Homo sapiens: one gene and its partner. The protein of the gene in region 2 purifies or fractionates together with the protein of the main gene of each other region. This does not show direct contact. Each region holds a gene or a part of one and is shown on either strand. Other genes may lie near its edges.

Region 1 (3,500 bases), on a different chromosome or scaffold from region 2:
ACCTCCCAGGTTCAAGCAATTCTCCTGCCTCAGCCTCCTGAGTAGCTGGGATTATAGGCGCCCACCACCACCCCAGTCATGCCCAGCTAATTTTTTTTTTTTTTTTTTGTATTTTTAGTACAGACAGGGTTTCACCATGTTGGCCAGGCCTGTCTTGGACTCCTGACATCAGGTGATCTGCCTGCCTCGACCTCCCAAAGTGCTGGTGTTACAGGCGTGAGCCACTGCACCTGGCCCAAATACATTTTGAACTCAAATATTATTAGGCCGGGCGCAGTGGCTCATGCCTGTAATGCCAGCACTATGGGAGGCCAAGGGGAGCGGATCACCTGAGGTTAGGAGTTCGAGACCAGCCTGGCCAACATGGTGAAGCCTCGTCTCTACTAAAAATATAAAAATTAGCTGTGTGTGGTGGTGCGTGCCTGTAGTCTAGCCTGGAGAGGCTGAGGCAGGAGAATCAGTTGAACCTGGGAGGCAGAGGTTGCAGTTAGCTGAGTTCATACCACTGCACTCCAGCCTGGACAACAGAGCAAGACTCTCAAAAAAAAAATTATATATATATATATGTATTTGGATCTAAGGAAGGAGAACAGATTAATCAGGTAAATATTTTCACTTGGTAGGAAAGCAAAGCCCTTTCTCCCATCTCCACCCAAAGGTAAATAATTTTTTTTCTTCTCTGGAAAATAACAAAATATATCAGGCTGAAGTTAATATTATCAGTACTGTTATCTGTAAGTCCTACATCCTACATCTCCATAGATTTATCTTTTTTTTTTTTTGCAAATAAGAAAAAATATTTTAAAAAATAGAAATAAGGTAAGTACCTGCTCCATTCCGTTTGATTTTCTGGGTTTTCACATGAGCCACATAAACGTGATATCACCTGTGATTCTAAAGGTCCAAGTGTTCAGAAATAGATTATGATTACGGCTCACATGTTTAACAAAAATTTGAAAGGCAGATTTTGGAAAGGTAAAGATCAAATAATCTCCTTGTGAGCTTCCAAAATACTATTTCCAGACCATCACTTGAGAAACTGAGTATTATTTTGGTCACAGATCATATAAGATCTTTTGTAGTTTAAAATTAAGTTTTTTCTTTTTTTTTAATCTTTGTGTTACCCTGACATCTTCTGGCCAAAAGAGAGAGCTGCACATCAACAGTTGAACATTCTCAAGCTCATTCTCACAAGAGGCAGGGAGCAATAAATGCTTCCCCTTCAAGAGCAGTCAGGATCACCCAACTCTATAAACTGCTTCACGCTGATATAGCATAGCCCTTCAGCTTCCACTGAGAATTTCACTGAGTAGATGAACTTGCAGCATGCCCTTTAAGAAAATGCACTAACAGGCCGGGCGCGGTGGCTCATGCCTGTAATCCCAGCACTTTGGGAGGCCGAGGCCGGCGGATCACAAGGTCAGGAGATCGAGACCATCCTGGCTAACACGGTGAAACCCCGTCTCTACTAAAAATACAAAAAATTAGCCAGGCGTGGTGGCGGGCGAATGCAGTCCCAGCTACTCGGGAGGCTGAGGCAGGAGAATGGCCTGAACCCGGGAGGCGGAGCTTGCAGTGAGCCGAGATAGCGCCACTGCACTCCAGCCTGGGTGACAGAGCGAGACTCCATCTCAAAAAAAAAAAAAAAAAGAAAAAAGAAAATGCACTAACAGAACAGAAGAAAAATAAAAGTTAAATTCTGTGGAGCCTTTTTTTTTTTTTTTTGGAGAAAAAAATCTCTAATTTGATCCAATTTTTTTTTCTTTTTTTATAGAGGGGGGTGTCACTCTTTCACCTAGGCTGGAGTGTGGTGCATAATCATAGCTCACTGCAGCCTCAAACTCCTGGGCTCAAGTGGATCCTCCCACCTCAGCCTCCCAAGTAGCTAGGACTACAGGCACAGGCTACCACACATGACTAATTTATTTATTTTATTTTATTTTACTTATTTATTTATTTATTTTGAAATAGAGATTTATTTATTTATTTAGAGATCGAGTCTCACTCTGTCACCCAGGTTGGAGTGGCACGATCTCAGCTTACTGCAATCTTGATCTCCCGGGTTCAAGCGATTCTCAGCCTCCTGAGTAGCTGGAATTACAGCCACCTGCCATCACACCCAGCTAATTTTTGTATTTTTAGTAGAGATGGGGTTTCATCATGTTGACCAGGCTGGTCTCAAACTCCTGACCTCAAGTGATCCTCCCGCCTCAGCCTACCAAAGTGCTGAGATGCTAGCATTACAGGCATGAGCCACCGTGCCCGGCCTTAATTTTTTTTTTAGACAGAGTTTCGCTCTTGTCACCCAGGCTGCAGTGCAATGGTATGATTGCAGCTCACTGCAACCTCTGCCTCCCGGATTCAAGCAATTCTCCTGCCTCAGCCTCCCGAGTAGCTGGGATTACAGTTGCCCGCCACCACGTTCAGCTAATTTTTGTATTTTTAGTAGAGACAGGGTTTCACCATGTTGGCCAGGCTGGTCTCGAACTCCTGACCTCAGGGAATCTACCCGCCTCGGCCTCCCAAAGTGCTGGGATTATAGGCGTGAGCCACCACGCCCAGGAATTTCTTTTTTTTTTTAAAACTTAACTTGGTGCTCATTTGTTACAGCACTAAATTTCTCATTTTTGGTAGAGATGGGGGAACTCACTATGTTGCCCAGGCTGGTCTCGAACTCCTGGCCTCAAGCAATCCTCCTACCTTGGCCTCCCAAAGCTCTGTGATTATAGGCATGAGCCACCATGCCCAGCCTGGATTCAAAAAAAATTTTTTTTTCTTTTTCCTTCTTTTTCTTTTTCTCGCTGCCTCCTCCAAGTAGGAAGACTACATATGGATTCAAGTTTTTTTTTCTTTTGAGGCAGTGTTCCGCTCTTGTTGCCCAGGCTGGAGTGCAGCGGCATGACTTCGGCTCACTGTAACCTCTGCCTCCCAGGTTCAAGCGATTCTCCTGCCTCAGCCTCCCAAGTAGCTGGGACTACAGGCGCGTGCCACCACACCCGGCTAATTTTCGTTTGTATTTTTAGTAGAGATGAGGTTTCACCATGTTGGCCAGGCTGGTCTCGAACTCCTGACGTCAGGTGATCCTTCCGCTTCGGCCTCCCAAAGTGCTGGGATTACAGGCATGAGCCACCGAGCCTGGCCTGGATTCAAAAATTTTTAAGATTTATTCTGGACTCAAATTGAAAAACAGGATCTTTTTAAAAGGTAGAAACTAAGTTATTTACTACAACTTTTTTTCTTTCTTTTTTTTTTTTTTTTTTTTGAGATGGGGTCTCACTCTGTCACCCAGGCTGGAGTCTGGAGTGCAGTGGCATGATCTCGGCTCAAGCAATTCTCCCACCTCAGCTTCCAGAGTAGCTGGGACCACAGGGGCACACCACCACACTTGGCTAATTTTTGTGTTTTTAGTAGAGAGGGGTTTCTCCATGTTGCCCAGGCTGGTCTCAAACTCCTGACCTCAAGGGATCTGCCCACCTCAGCCTCCCAAAGTGCTGGGATTA
Region 2 (3,500 bases):
GTGTCTGTGGCTTCTCCAGTTGCATGGTGCAAGCCGTCTGTGGATCAGATTCAGATTGTGGGGTCTGAAGGATGGTGGCCCTCTTCTCACAGCTCTACTAGACAGTGCCCCAGTGGGGATTCTGTGTGGGGGCTCCAACCCCACATTTCCCTGCTGCAGTGCCCTAGCAGAGGTCTTCCATGAGGGCTCTGCCCTTGCAGCAACTTCTGAATGGACACCCAGGTGTTTCTGTACATTTTCTGAAGTCTAGGCAGAGGTTCTCAAACCACAGTTCTTGACTTCTGTGCACCCGCAGGCCCAACACCACGTGTAAGCTGTCAAGGCTTGGGGCTTGCACCCTCTGAAGCAACAGCCTGAGCTGTATGTTGGCCCCTTTTAGCCGTGGCTGGGACATAGGGCACCATATGCAGTCCCGAGGCTGCATAGAGCAGGGGGTCTTAGGCTTGGCCCAGGAAATCACTTTTCCCTCCTAGGCTTATGATGGAAGGGGCTGCCATGAAGGTCTCTGACATGCCTTGGAGACATTTTCCCCATTGTCTTGGTGATTTACATTTGGCTCCTCATTACTTATGCAAATTTCTGCAGCTGGCTGGAATTTCTTCCCAGAAAATGTTTTTCTTTTCTGTCGCATCATCAGGCTGCAAATTTTCCAAATTTTTTATGCTCTGCTTCCTCTTGAATGCTTTGCCCCTTAGAAGTTTCTTCTGCCAGATACCCTAAATTATCTCTCTCAAGTTCAAAGTTCCACAGATCTCTGGGGCAGGGGCAAAATGCCACCAAACTCTTTGCATAGCAAGAGTGACCTTTACTCCATTTCCCAAAAAGTTCCTCATCTCCATCTGAGACCACCTCAGCCTGGACTTCATTGTTTATATCACTGTCAGCATTTTGGTCAATGTCATTCAACAAATTTCTAGGAAGTTCCCAAATTTCCCACATTTTCCTGTCTTCTTCTGAGCCCTCAAAACTGTTCCAACCTCTACCTGTTACCCAGTTCCAAAGTTGCTTTCACACTTGTGGATATCTTTACAGCAACCCTCCACTCTCTGCTGTACTCATTTACTGTATTACTCAGTTTTCATGCTGCTAATAAAGACATACCTGAGACAGGGTAATTTATAAAGGAAAGAGGTTTAATTGATTCTCAGTTCAGTATGGGTGGGGAGGCCTCAGGAAACTTACAATCATGGTGGAAGGGGAAGCAAATATGTCCTTCACATGGTAGCAGGGAGAAGAAGAGTGAGTGCCCAGAGCAGGGGAAGCCCCTTATAAAACCATCAGATCTCATGAGAACTAACTCACTATCATGAGAACAGGATGGGGGAAACCACCCCCATGATTCAGTTATCTCCACCTGGTCTCTCCCACGACACGTGAGGGTTATGGGAACTACAACTCAAGATGAGATTTGGGTGGGCACACGGCCAAATTATATCATATGATCATGGAGACTGATAAGCCCAAATTTGCAGTGTGGGCTTGCAGGCTGCAGACCCAGGAGAGCCGATGGTACAGGTGAAGCCCAGGTCATCTGCTGCAGAATCCCTCTTGCTTGGGGAGGCTGGTCTTTTTGTTGAATTAGGCTCACCTACATTATGGAGGCAAACTGCTTATTCAAAATTCACCAATTTAAATGTTAATCTCATCCCAAAACACCCTTCAAATTGACACGTAAAATTAACCATCATACCTGTTTTGGAAAATGATATGGCATTAGCTAGTTAAAAACCCCAAATCCTATGATCCAATAATTCTACTCTGTTTGGTATCCAAGAGTTCTCTCATTATAGGGAAAATTCCTGACAATATTTATAGCAACAGTGATTGCAATAGCAAAAAATTGGTAACAACCCAAATACCCATCAACAGTAGAACCGAAAAGCACACTGAGGTCTATTCACACATTAGGATACTCTACATCACTAAAATGAGTGAATTATCACTTGCTCACCGACATGGATGAAGCTCATGAACTTTGTGTTGAAAGAAAAGAGCAAGTTACCAAAAAAAATAGGTAAACTAGGGTTCCTTTTCTTTAAAGGTTTTAGAAATATGCATAATTAAACAATACGTTATTTATAGATACAAACGTGGTAAAACTATAAAGAAAAGCAAAGTTCAGAAACATGGTAGGTGGGGGATAGAATAGAATCAGGAAGGGCTGAAAGGGTCTTTAAGGCTCATAGTCAGGGTGTTTTCCTTATACAGGTGTTTTATTTTGCATTTGTCTCAAAATGTTTTAGAAGATTTCTTTCAAATCTACTGATTTCTTTTTCTTTTCCTTTTTTGAGACAGAGTCTCACTCTGTTGCCCAGGCTGGAGTGCAGTGGCATGATCTCAGCTCATTGCAACCTCTGCCTCCTGGGTTCAAGTGGTTCTCCTGCCTCAGCCTCCTGAGTAGCTGGGATTACAGGCCTGCATCATCACACCCAGCTAATTTTTGTATTTTTGTAGAGATGGGGGTTTTGCCATGTTGGCCAGGCTGATCTCAAACTCCTGACCTCAGGTGATCCACCCCACCTTGGCCTCCCAAAGTGCTGGAATTACAGGCATAGGCCACCTTGCCTGGCCAAATCTACTGATTTCTAATGGTGAAAAGAGATGTGATTGCAATTTTTGAGCAGTTGAAAGCTCTAAGGTAAGGATGAAATCTTCATTCTGATATGGCCTGGGGGCCAGGTAGAGGTAAGTTTCAGCAATGGTTTCAAATTTTTATGATCCAAGGACTAAAAAATGATGATTTTAGTGAAAAAGATGTGAAATTAAGAGACCAACTTGGCTAGCAAGAGTGGAATTAAGTCTGTTTCAGGTGTATTAAATTGTAAAGTAGCCTTTGACCAGCTGACAATTGAAATTATGGAACAACAAACCAGGATTGAAAATATCCAATTTGAAGTCATCTGAATGATCATCCAGCACATGTGGATGGATGGGGTTAACTAAGAAAGTACCAATGGATGGGGGCAGAAGTCTAAGGTCATAGCTTGTGGCTTGGAGGATGGTCACATTGTAGTGTGTTAAAGAAGGTGTTCATGTTAAAGAATGTAGAGGGCATAGAGAAAAGAGGGGGAGAGTTGGGAGGGAGAGGAAAGTGAACAGGTGAATTATTGATGTGAGAGCAGAAGACACATAGAACTCATATTTATAGTAGAGGGTTAGATTTTCTTGCTCCACACATGCAGGTACTTTGTGTTGGCTGTATTGTATGTTTGCTGACTCTGTGATCTCCCATATTCCAGTCCATTTATCTCAAACTGGGCACAGAGATGTTCCTCACTGTTTCCCTTTAAGAGTCTCATTCTCTCCCAGGTGGGATGAGGCTCCTTATATGCCATCCATGCTCATTCTTAGAAGGCTCTTATCTCTACACCCTTCAGGGACAAGTGTTCTCTGTCCAGGTTCCCAGCAGCTGACATAGCAGCCAAAGTTTTCTTTCATTCTTGTATATATCTGCTGGTTAGTGGCACTAAAGAGATTCCTTTAATATTAAGGGCTCCAGA

The links.
Region 1: the proteins of CD226 (region 2) and TMEM192 purify together in Homo sapiens (co-immunoprecipitation; 2 studies listed by BioGRID and IntAct, with this or other methods). This does not show direct contact.

The regions. Positions count from the first base shown.
Region 1 is NC_000004.12:165,095,861-165,099,360, forward strand, and holds part of TMEM192 (transmembrane protein 192), read right to left. Parts: intron 1-3,500.
Region 2 is NC_000018.10:69,937,874-69,941,373, reverse strand, and holds part of CD226 (CD226 antigen isoform a precursor), read left to right. Parts: intron 1-3,500.